Linked DNA regions of Homo sapiens. The protein of the gene in region 2 interacts with the protein of the main gene of each other region in a biochemical or structural test. Each region holds a gene or a part of one and is shown on either strand. Other genes may lie near its edges.

Region 1 (7,346 bases), on a different chromosome or scaffold from region 2:
TACAGGCACCCACTGCCACACCCAGCTAATTTTTGTATTTTTAGTAGAGACAGGGTTTCACCATGTTAGCCAGGCTGGTCTTGAACCCCTGACCTCAGGTGATCTGCCAGCCTCGGCTTCCCAAAATGCTGGGATTACAGGTGTGGGCCACCGTGCCCAGCCTCTTTGCAGTAATTCTGTAAATCTAAACCTGCTCTAAAATTAAGTTTATTTAAAAACAAAACAAAAAAGAACCCTATGTTGGAGGGTGTGTTGGTGTTAGGCTATGTGTTTCCGAAAATGAAGCAGGAGTACTTTGTGTTTGTAGAAGTGAAACCTGAATAGAAGATACCAAAATCCTCAGCAAATGACTGTAAGAGAGAGAGAGAGAAATGAATGAGAATCTATCGGTATGTGCTGGGAAAATGCACTGCCACCTTCTGAACACCTACTAGGCCCCAGGCCCAGTGGGAGGTGCTTTCTGTATCAGCCAAGCTGCCAGCCTGGAATACTTACAGAATCTGCCTAGATCACACAGCCAGTGAGTGGTGGGGCCAGGCCTGTACCCCATGTCTCTGTGACCATGGCTGTCTGTAACCACTATGATCCCAGGAGAAAGATCCATGCCAAGATGCCCAGAGCAAGCCCTGGCTCACTGCTCCAAAATAGGACTCCACATCCTAAAATGCCAGCCCTCAACGGGCACAAAAGATAGGTAAGCCAACTCAGACAGGCAAACCAAGACCAAAGAACAAGCCCTGAGAGATCACCTTAAGTAACTCCCTATTTTTTTTTTTTTTTTTGTAAGGGTGAGACCTCAGGGGAGAGAGGAGACAGGATATTTTTGTGAGTTAGGGGCAAAACAGACTCCAACAGAGGTTTCTGACCTCTATATCCAGCAGCCATTCTGGGCACAGGGACCCACTCACCCCTGGTTTGAATGATGGCAGGCCCAGCCCCACACCAATGGTGGCCTTGTTAGGATTCACCACTGAATTATAGTGGATATTCCGATGGTAGCTAACACGAATGGGTTCGTCCTCGTTTTGATGTATCCCATGGAATGTGTTGATGGGTTCTGCAGAGAAAGAGAAGGAGGGAGCATCCACAGCAGGCCAGGTTGGGCAGGCTCGAATGAGGCACCATCTTTCCCTCACCTACCCACTGCAGAAGTACCTGTGCTGTACTGGTACACCTCCACAGGACGGTTGTACATCTCTGCCATGGCCTGCATCTCAATGTGGTTGCCATGGCAATTGTTTTTCCGCTTCCTGTTAATGTAGGTGGTAAAGTCCTCTGTGACATAGTTGGAGAAGTAGTCGGCATTCTTCATCTGCAGAATAGATTGGAAGGTTAAGGTCTGTGTGGAGAAGAAATCCTCCCACCCTGCCCCTTCCCCAAAGGCCTCCATTTTCTCACCAGATAGTCCATGCAATGCTTTCGCACAACCTCATGCATGTCCTGGTCTCCATACACCTGGTCAGCTGTGGGGGCAGAAGAAAGCAGCAGCTAGGGTCAGAGATGCCAGAGAAGAGCTCTGAATCATAGAACATCCTTTGGGGAGGAGGAACTGGGGGACCAGGGAAATTCCCTTTTCTACCCCAAGGCCTGGAGAGTTCTTGCCCTTGTAGGCTAGAACGGGGTCATGGAAAAATATGGCAGGCAGGGCCAGACTTGAAGAACAAGAGAGTGCAGGTGAGAGGAACACATCCACAGGCCTCTTGGGCAGATGACTTTGTCTAGGGTACACGTGGCCACTCAGAGAAATCAACAACATTCTAAGTTCCACAGGTTGGCCTCAAATGCTATTGATTCCCACACCCCCTTTGCTTTCCACATGAGGAAACTGAGGTTCAGGGGGAGTTTGTGGTTTGTCCAAGGTCACAAAGAGTCAGTCTGTGACAGAGTCAACTCTGAATTCAGTTTTCCTGACTCCTACAAGTCAACATGGCCTTTGTAGGCTGAAAAAAAAGGGAACAAAGACAAAAAAAGGAAAGAAAAAAAAATGGGCTCCAAGCCCAGTTCTGCCAGATACTAGAGAGTTGAGTGACCAGAGGCAAGTGACCCAAGTGTTCTGAGCCTCATATACCTCATCTGTAAAATGGGAAAAAGAGGGATAACAGGCCAGGCGTGGAGGCTCACACCTGTTATCCCAGCACTTTGGGAGGCCAAGGTGGGCAGATCACTTGAGGTCACGAGTTCGAGACCAGCCTGGCCAACGTGGTAAAACCCCGTCTCTACCAAAAATACAAAAATTAGCCGGGCATGGTGGCGGGCGCCTATAATCCCAGCTACTTGGGAGGCTGAAGCAGGAGAATCGCTTGAACCCAGGAGGCAGAGGTTGCAGTGAGCCGAGATCATGCCACTGCACTCCAGCCTGGGCGACAGAGTAAGACTCTGTCTCAAAAAAAAAAAAAAAAAAAAAAAGGGATAACCAAATGGCAGGCCTTTTGTGGGGATTAAATGAGATAACGGGTATAAAATAACTACCACTGGGCTTGGGACAGAGTAGCCACAGAGTAAATCAGAATTCCTTCCTCCGTAGGGAGGCCTGAATGTGGGGTACTGTGAAGGTGACAGAGGTGAGTAAAATCCTGCCCCTACCTTCGGGGAGCACACAGTCTAGTAAAAGAGATAAGACACACATGCAACTAACTTTAGCTTAACTCAGGATGGGCAGCCTGTGGCCCGAATAGTCCAGGCGTCGTGAGATTTGGTCAAACTAAGGCGAGAAGGAAACACACTCCCTCTGCTTCGCTTGAGGATCTTCACACATGCCGTTCCTTCTCTTCAGGACGCTCCTTCCATCCTCGTCAGCTGCCTACTTCTCAAACACCAATGTGTTCTTTATTTATTTATTTATTTGAGACAAGGTCTCGCTCTGTCGCCCAGGCTGGAGTGCAGTGGCGCGATCATAGTTCACTGCAGCCTTGACCTCCTGGGCTCAAGCGATCCTCTCGCCTCAGACTCCCAAAGTGCCTGGATTACAGGTGTGAGCCACCGCGCCTGGCCCAACATGTTCTTTAATACAGTTCCCCACTACCCAGGACACCTCTATCACCAGATTTATCAAAGGTGTGCATAGACTTCTGCCCGACCACACTGGGCTCCCACAGAAGGCAAAGGGCAGTTCACACCAAAGTCCACCCCCAGCTCAGGGCCCGATACAGTAAAGGAAATCAGGAAAAGTTTACTGAGCAAATGGATAGGCTGGGTAAGCCAGGGAGCTCTTCTCCCTGTGAAATTAAAGTGGGCCTGAAGATCATGCAAGTCTGATTTCCACTGGTTTTGGGAATTTCCCTTTGTTTCCCCAGAGGACCACTGCTCTGATGGGATCTCCCTGGGGCATGGGGCTAGGGTCAGGTCACACAGGAACACTCCTGAGTTCTTCCCTGTCAGTCTACCTCTCTGAAGAACTGTCAGAAGAACACCTTCCCTGCCTTCCCCTTCCTACCCTGGAGTGTTCTGTGAGAAAGGCTACTCTGAGATAGAAAATAGGGCCCATGTTTGTCTCCAGTCCTCTTGGAGGTGAAGAGACCTGAAGGGTAAGGGGGTGTGGAGGTTGTGAAGGCGGGAAGGGGGGTAGCCCCTTCACCAATGTAAACAAGGATGTGGGTTCTGCGGCCACACTCTCCCCCGCCCTCCCCAGCGGCATTTCCAGCAAGTCACATGTCCTGCGCACAGGCTGGGGGCCCCCTGCTGCTGCCTTTCTTAGAAGCCAGGACCACAGAGCCCGCACAGTGAGCTACTTGGGGAGCTATTTCTGTAGACTGAGCTTGGGGTACTGGGAGGCAGTGCTGTTGGCAGCTGCAGTAAACAGGAACAAAGATGAGAATGAAGGGGTTAAATAGGGGTTGGCTGGCCAGGCTCAGAGAGATAGGCTGAGGTGCTGGAGAAAGCCCATCTCCTATGGAAAGGTCAACGGTCATTTCCAGGCCTGGGAGTTCTATCTTCAAGAGCTAGATGCCAGATGCAGGAAAATGGGGAAAGAGAGGAGACTGTGGAACAGGGAAGGGATCTGGGGGAAAACCCCCTGAGGGTCCCATTTCTCTGCCACTGACCCCTTTGCCTGGCAGAAAGGCTCTGCTGCCTCCTAGCTGTGTAGCAATGGATAAGGCCTTTAACCTCTCTAAGCTGAAATGTCCTCATGCATAAGGTGGAGACAGTAACTCCTCTTCCATCTGCTGGGTGTTGTCAAAACTACACAGGAGGTTTGCCAAGCACCTAAGGCACAGTAGGTGGTCAAGAAACAGGAACACAATTTGTCATGACGACAATGATTCCTTCATATGCTAGTTACCCACGAGTCAGCCAGAATGTTGCCATAACCACTTATGAAGCCCTTCCTCATTTCTGTTGCAATTCCTCAGCCAGAGGAAAGCCCCAAATGCAGACCTAGGATGCATGTCCTCTCCTGGCTCTCTACCTTTAGCGAAACCAAAGGTCCACAAGTCTACCTCTAGGCCGTTAGTTCTAACAAAACTTCAGCAGTTAAATTAATATCGAATTAACAATACAGGCTTCATAAAACAGGGTCCTAAAGTATGGACGAGTTATGACACTTCTTTACTTATCTGTAAAATGTAAAATACCACCTTCTCTCCTCAATCCTATGATGGCACTGATAGGTGATATGGTATAACATGTACCTAATCACAGCTTTTGAGGGGGGAAACACACCACACTGATTATAAGGTATACCCTAAGTTTGGAATCATTAACGTGGAAGAAAATATACATCTCCAAACCAAGGAAAACAGCAATAGTACTACCCCAACAAGGGAGAATAGAAGGATTTCTCCAATAATATAAGGCAGGAAAAGCATCTAAGCACAGAGCTAAACACATAGGAAGTACTCAACAAGAATTCATTTTTGGCCAGGTGTGGTGGCTCACGCCTGTAATCCCAGCAATTTGGGAGGCCGACGCAGGTGGATCACCTGAGGTCAGGAGTTCAAGACCAGCCGAGCCAACATGGTGAAACCCTATCTCTACTAAAAATACAAAAAATTAGCCAGGCAGGGTGGTGGATGCCTGTAATCCCAGCTATTTGGGAGGCTGAGGCAGAAAAATCGCTTGAACCCGGGAGGTGGAGGTTGCAATGAGCCAAGATCACACCACTGCACTACAGCCTAGGCAACAAGAGCGAAACTCTGTCTCAAAAAAAAAAAAAAGAATTCGTTTTTCTGACTTTCCTAGCTCCACCTCTGTCCTCCAGAAAGCCCTCCTCTTCCCAGAAGGCTGGCACACAGGGCTGGGGGCCAGGCTTGACTTCCCTGTGGAGGGGTCTGAGGTTGGGGGGATGACCTGCAGAGGTAGGGGAATTCAGAGAACTTGTTTTGATAGAAACTGAAACTCCTCCTCTTGCTGACGCTGCACTTGTGGGCAATCTGCACCTGTTCTCCCCTCCCAGAGGCCAGCTGGAAGGGGGTCCCCCACCATTCTACCTCTGTTCCCATCTCAAACAGGGCTCAGAAATCCTCAGTACAATACTACAATTGGTCCCACACCAAAGACTTTTCACACTCCAACTCATTCTATCCTTACCAAAACACTCTTACTTTACCCAGGAGACACAGAAATGTGGCAAAGCTTGCCTGGGATCACAGATTTAGGGGGAGTGAAGGGGAGGCCAGGCTCTCAAAGGGTAACTGCTGGCCCCAGCTGATATTACCACCTTCACCCCAATCCAGCCACCATCTTAGTCACCTTACTCCCTGGGGCAGGACCTGATCTTGTGTGCCTCAGTTTCCACACCAGCACAAGCAGGAATCAGCTAGAACCCAGGAAAGGCATGGGAGAGGGCAGAGATTATAGATATCAGGGGCTGCATCTCTCCCTAGGGCCACAGAGGCCAATATGAACCTTACCCTCCCCATACACACCCCACTTCTTTCCTTTTTCTGGACACACAGAGACACCAGTATAGAAATGCACATGTGTATACACATACAGCAGAGACTGCCAAAGATGCTCCCTGAGGCCAAATGCTCACCCAACAAATCCCACAACAGAGAACTATCACATTCAATGAGTAGATGCCCTTGCCACTTCAGGAAAGACTGAAGATGTGAGGCTCTATAAACTGAGGGACCCCCTACCCCACCAACCTCCTTCCTGGCCTCTGGCAGGGTAGGTGGAGGGCAGGGGAAATAACCAAGAGCTCTAACAGACTAGCCTCAACCTCTCTCCTCTGTTGCCCGGGGGAAGTCCTTATGTAACTAATGTAATGTAACCAATAATGTACCCAGATTTATGTTAAGAAGCAAGACATGAGAGCCTGGATTATCTTCCTATAGGGTCCTACCATTTGCTTTAGAGACATCTGAGAACTGCCTACTCCCCAGGTAGCTGCCTGCCTCCCAGAAGAGCCACAGCAAGTTCCGCTAAGGGCAAAAAAGGAAGCTAGGTGTCTACAGGGAACCTAAAAACAAACCACACTAACGTGTGTACACACAGCTGCAGAGGGAGACAGGGACCTGGTCTGCTCCCCACTACCCTCCTGGTCCAGTGGGAACCCTGGCCCCACTGAGAACCAATCTCCTGAGGAGATGAGCCAGGACAAAGGTCTCACTTGCCTGTCAAGCAGCTGTGGTGTGACCTGGTCTGTAGCCCCAACTACCCCAACTAGCATACCCTCAGTGGGAGAGACAGAACTCATCCCACTGGATAGTCTGGTTCCTGAGATGTGTGCTCCTCTGCTCAAGGATTCCCACTGCAAGGATGAGAAACCTGAAGGATACACGGGAGAGGCTGAAGGAAGCTGGTGTACAGGAAATGGCCCGTGGGAATCTTCTTTCTGTGGCCTGGTTCAACCTCAAATACCAATGTTCTGACACTGGTTGTATGACCTAGATAGGGTAGGGTCTTGGCTTTCTCTTGAGGCCTCAGTTTCCCCATTTATAAAACAATCAAAATTGATCTCAGATCCATCCCTCCTAGTGCTGATGTTCCAAGACCAAAAGGCCCAGAAGAGTGGGCCTAGCTAATGTTTCTGGGCCTCATCGTGGTAACATGCACAGCCCTTGCCACTCCCCCATGGCCCATGTAGAAACAACCATGTGGCCTTCACTCTGCCCACAGAAGCTAGCACCAGGACCCTGGTCAGGGTTAGAGGTTTCTGCTGAGTCAAAGCCACATGGAGGGAGGGAGCAAGGGAGAGATGCAGAGTCATGTTTCCAGGAGGAGGTTATCTGAGCATAACAGGGACAGGGTGGGCCACAGGATACCTCTGAGGCTCAGGTTCCCACCTCCACTCCACCCAAGCCTTCAATGATGCTCATGAATCCCCAATAAGAGGAGGTGGGAGAGAACTGAGCGCAAGCAATGGATATTGCTTAACTCAGGGGAACCAATGGCAGGCAGGC
Region 2 (4,388 bases):
CAGATGAAGGCCAATGCCACGCAGCCTAAAGGGGTTGTCTCTGGTCTCCTACCTATACCCACCTTTCAGTGTGTCTGCCTAGAAGGAAATGAGTAATGACCTCTCACAGTCCCTCAGGTTACCCTCACTGTCTACACCTTACTCCTCTTCTGTATGCTTAACACCATCTCACCAAACCAGGGCCTACTTTATGTTCCTAGCAGTAGCTCACAGGGGTATGGTGTGTTTGTGTAACTTTTCAGCACCTTCTCTTTTTCCTTTCAATGATGCAGGGCAATTCTGCACAGACTTACAAACTGTGCATGTAAAAGTGTAAAAGCATGTATCCTCTTATTGTAGTCTTAAAAAGCTCGTGGAATCTAGGGACACAGAAGATTCTGTGGCACAGATTTAGGTACAGAGCAAAATACTCACTGGAAAAATCAAGTATTGGCTAGCTACCACGGGGATTTGATCCTAGCTGGCAAACGTGGAACTCCGCAAATACTTGGAGCCATTAATTATGTATACTTGTTTTATTCATAATTTGTCATGTTCTGGGATACCAAAAGTAATAATGGCTGAACTTAACAAAATTTGTAACCTCATCTTAATATCCACTGATCCATCTCATTCAATGGTAACAGTCAATGTTTTCTAAAGGAACATAAAAACAAACATGCACACAATTGCACAGTTTTCATAAAGGTCTATTTCATTATTGGTGGGTAGCGCATTTAACAGTTAAATACATTTAAATAATGTATAGGTGACTGCAGGACTGCAGCATTGGTAACTAGATAACCAACTAGAAACCAGCTAACAAAGAACTGTCTAAATACTTAAAATACAGCTCTTGTTGAGATCATCCTTTGTTTTGATCATCTTCTTGGGGGAAAAAAGCCTGCTGCTGGTCACAATGGAAATATATTAAGGCCAAATCTTCTGATATCCATTCCCAAAGGTTTCTTTCAGCTGGATTAAGCCTCCAACTCCAGGGCGAGCCCAACCTTGTGGCCTCCAGCATTAATGCTCTTCCCATCTACCAGAGCAGAGAGTGTAAGCTTCACACCTATTAAGACAAAAAAACACAAAAACAAAAAACCGTGATGTACCTGGCACGTCACTCAGTCTGGGCCTTCTTTCACAGTCATCCCCAGAGCCTGCCTGTCACTTCCTCAGCCTGTCAGCTGACCTACTAGTGCTGGCCACCAGAGGGCGCTTGGAAGTATCTGAGACACCAGAAGAACTGGGTTACCATTCTAGCTAAGGCACCAAGTCACAGAGAAATGTTTTAATAACAACTTCAAAGTGTTCTAGAATATACTATAATGTTGAGTATACTATCCCGATGAAAAGAGACTAAAGACATAATCATAATTCGATCCTAGAAAGGAAAACCTACAATAAAGACACATTTGGGAACGGGGGTAAATCTGAATATGTATTTGGTATTACATTAATGTTAGTTTTCTTAGATGCGACAATGGTATTGTGCTTATAAAGAAAAATGTCTTACTCTTAGGATACACATGCTAGGGGCTGCCATGTCTGTATGTCTGCAAAACATACATTTTTTTAAAAGTATGTGAAGTTTCAGACATAAAATAAATGTAGTAAATGTTAATAATTGTTAATAAATTGTTAATAATTGGTCAATGCAAGGTAAGGACATATGATGTTCATTGTACCATTCTTCCAACTTTTCTTTAGGTTTCAAAATCACCAAAATAAACTTTGGGGAGGAAAATCCCTATCTGAAGGGGGAAGTCTCCAGTACTTTAAGCAGATTCCAAGATGAGTCATGTGCACTCTGAAGTTGGAGAAGCGCTGTTCTAGACACAGCACGCTTCAAAATATTATATAAAGTCAACAAGACTATAGGCAGAACCAAAGCAATGAGTGAACTTTGATCAACAAAATAAAAATTACTACAAAACATTTCAGATACAAGCGAGGAAACTGACAGGAAGTGGGTATTAAATAATAAGGAATCACTAACTTTCTTAGGTGTGATAGTATTATAGTTATGCAGAAAAGAAGAGACGGGCCTTATTCTGAAGAGAAGTGTCATGACCAAATGGCCCAGCAAAAAAAAAAAAAGCAAAGAAAAAGAAATAAAAAATTGTGGTAAAAGGTAAACACGTATTTATTGTACTCTTCTTTCAACTCTTCTGTGTGCTTGAAAGGTCTGAAAAGTAAGCTGAAGAATGAAAACTAAATTTTTTAATACTATCAAAACAATCCTACTTTATCAAGAATACTTACCAGGCCTCAGAGTCTGAGTATAGCCTACTCCAATTAAGCTAGAGTTGTTGACTTTTGCCTAAAATAAAATACAAAAACAACTGTAAGAAAAATATTTCAATAGAGACAAAGCCCCTACATGTTTCCCCATCATGTAATCATGAAGTGTTCAGTTTTATTCACGTGAGACAATAAAATTCAATATTATGTATTAAGCCAAACAAACCAGGTACTATTTAATTCGTATCCATTCAACTCAAAAATCAAATTCTCAGTAGGACACAATACTCTTGATAGCCACTGGAATGTATCCAAAGACCCCAAACTGTCCATACAGCACAAAAGCCTAAGCACTCTCATAAAAATCATCTTTGTTAATTCTAGTCTAGCACAACAAACCAGACCAAAATGTGGTACAAGTCAGGCTCACTAGAGGTGACACACAGCAGCCTTAAAGCACAGGGTATAAAGTTTAAATTCATGACTTAGTTACACACATTACTACTTCCAGGACTCTTCCTAAAGAATCAAAACCATGAATGTTTAAAAAAAAAAAAAAAATCTCCAAACGACAAGTAATTCCTCTGAAGAATCAGATCAAACAATCCTTTATCCTCACATTCTTACACCTCTCATAAATGCCGGTGCTGCTGAGTTCTGGCTGTATGTAACCACTGCGTTTGGGAGGAGGTCCCAGTGAGGTATCATGTACCAATCCAGGCCCCTGCCTTCCTTGCACAATCCCAACATTTTAGGACTTAGTTACCGACTTCAAGGGCTGGAATGAACCCTGAAGAGTAAGACATAGTAAAGAGTAGATTCTTTCTAGCTCCATTCTCTACCACCCCTAACATTATGAAGACACACCAGAGGCCAGGAACACCTGCCTTCATTTCCAGGGCCTAGGTTGCCTAGACATGCAACTTTGCTTTGCTTTCAGCATTCTGAGGGCTACAATATAAAGGTAACAAACAGACTATGTGACCAAAACAGATCTCCAAATGATTCGATGTCTATACTCTTATAATGTGTAACATCCAAAGAGCCCAATCCAGAGAAAGAAATGATGTAACTATACAGACACAAACCACATCCAAAACACCTGTATTCACTTGGCACTACAGCCAAATATTCATGAGCTACCAATGACCATCTAAAGAAAAAAACAGGCCTGGCGCAGTGGCTGACACCAGTAATCCCTGCACTTTGGGAGGCCAAGGCGGGAGGACCACTTGAGCCCAGGAATTCAACAGCCTGGGCAACACGGTGAGACCCCTGTCTGTCTGTACAAAATTTTCCTAGCTTGGTATGATGGTGCACACCTACCCAACTACCAGGGAAGTGGGGGGTGAGTGGAAGGATCTCAAGCCCAGGTGGCTGAGGGCACAGTGAGCTGTGATTGCACCAGTGAACTACAGCCTAGGCAACAAAGCTCAAAAAAAAAAAAAGAAAGAAAAATACCTCACTAATGACCATCTTGTACCCTACAAATAAGAGCCTCAGACAGCTGGATAGACATTCCTATTATTGGCCAGGCGCAGTGGCTCACGCCTGTAATCCCAGCACTTTGGGAGGCCGAGGCAGGCGGACCACAAGGTCAGGAAATCGAGACCATCCTGGCTAACACGGTGAAACCCCGTCTCTACTAAAAATACAAAAAATTAGCCGGGCGTGGTGGTGGGCACCTATAGTCCCAGCTACTCGGGAGGCTAAGGCAGGAGAAAGGCGTGAACCCGGGAGGCGGAGGTTGCAGTGAGTGGAGATCTTGCCACTGCACTCCAGCCTGGGCTACTGAGCGAGACTCCGCCTCAAAAAAAAAAAAAAGAAAGAAAGAAAGAAATTCCCATTATTGGCCGGGCTGGGTGGCTCATGCCTGTAATCCCAGCACTTTGGGAGGATCACAAGGTCAGGAGTTCAAGACCAGCCTGGCCAAGATGGTGAAACCCCGTCTCTACTAAAACTACAAAAATTAGCCAGGCACGGTGGCAGGCGCCTGTAATCCCAGCTACTCGGGGTGCTAAGGCAGGAGAATCACTTGAATCCGGGTGGCAGAGGTTGCAGTGAGCAGAGCAGAGATCGCACCACTGCACTCCAGCCAGGGTAACAAAGTGAGACTCTGTCTCCAAAAAAAAAAAAAAAAAAAAATTCCTATTATTTAACAG

Evidence for each region.
Region 1: the proteins of VDAC2 (region 2) and OTUD5 form a complex in vitro, tested with the Homo sapiens proteins (one study listed by BioGRID).

The regions. Positions count from the first base shown.
Region 1 is NC_000023.11:48,933,556-48,940,901, forward strand, and holds part of OTUD5 (OTU domain-containing protein 5), read right to left. Parts: intron 2,797-7,346; exon of another isoform or gene 2,636-2,796; intron 1,464-2,635; coding exon 1,399-1,463; intron 1,313-1,398; coding exon 1,156-1,312; coding exon of another isoform or gene 1,141-1,155; intron 1,058-1,140; coding exon 909-1,057; intron 1-908. UniProt on the Homo sapiens protein: Deubiquitinating enzyme that functions as a negative regulator of the innate immune system. Has peptidase activity towards 'Lys-48'- and 'Lys-63'-linked polyubiquitin chains. Can also cleave 'Lys-11'-linked ubiquitin chains (in vitro).
Region 2 is NC_000010.11:75,227,561-75,231,948, reverse strand, and holds the end of VDAC2 (non-selective voltage-gated ion channel VDAC2), read right to left. Parts: intron 2,306-4,388; coding exon 2,248-2,305; intron 1,052-2,247; coding exon 960-1,051; 3' UTR 501-959; downstream 1-500. UniProt on the Homo sapiens protein: Non-selective voltage-gated ion channel that mediates the transport of anions and cations through the mitochondrion outer membrane and plasma membrane.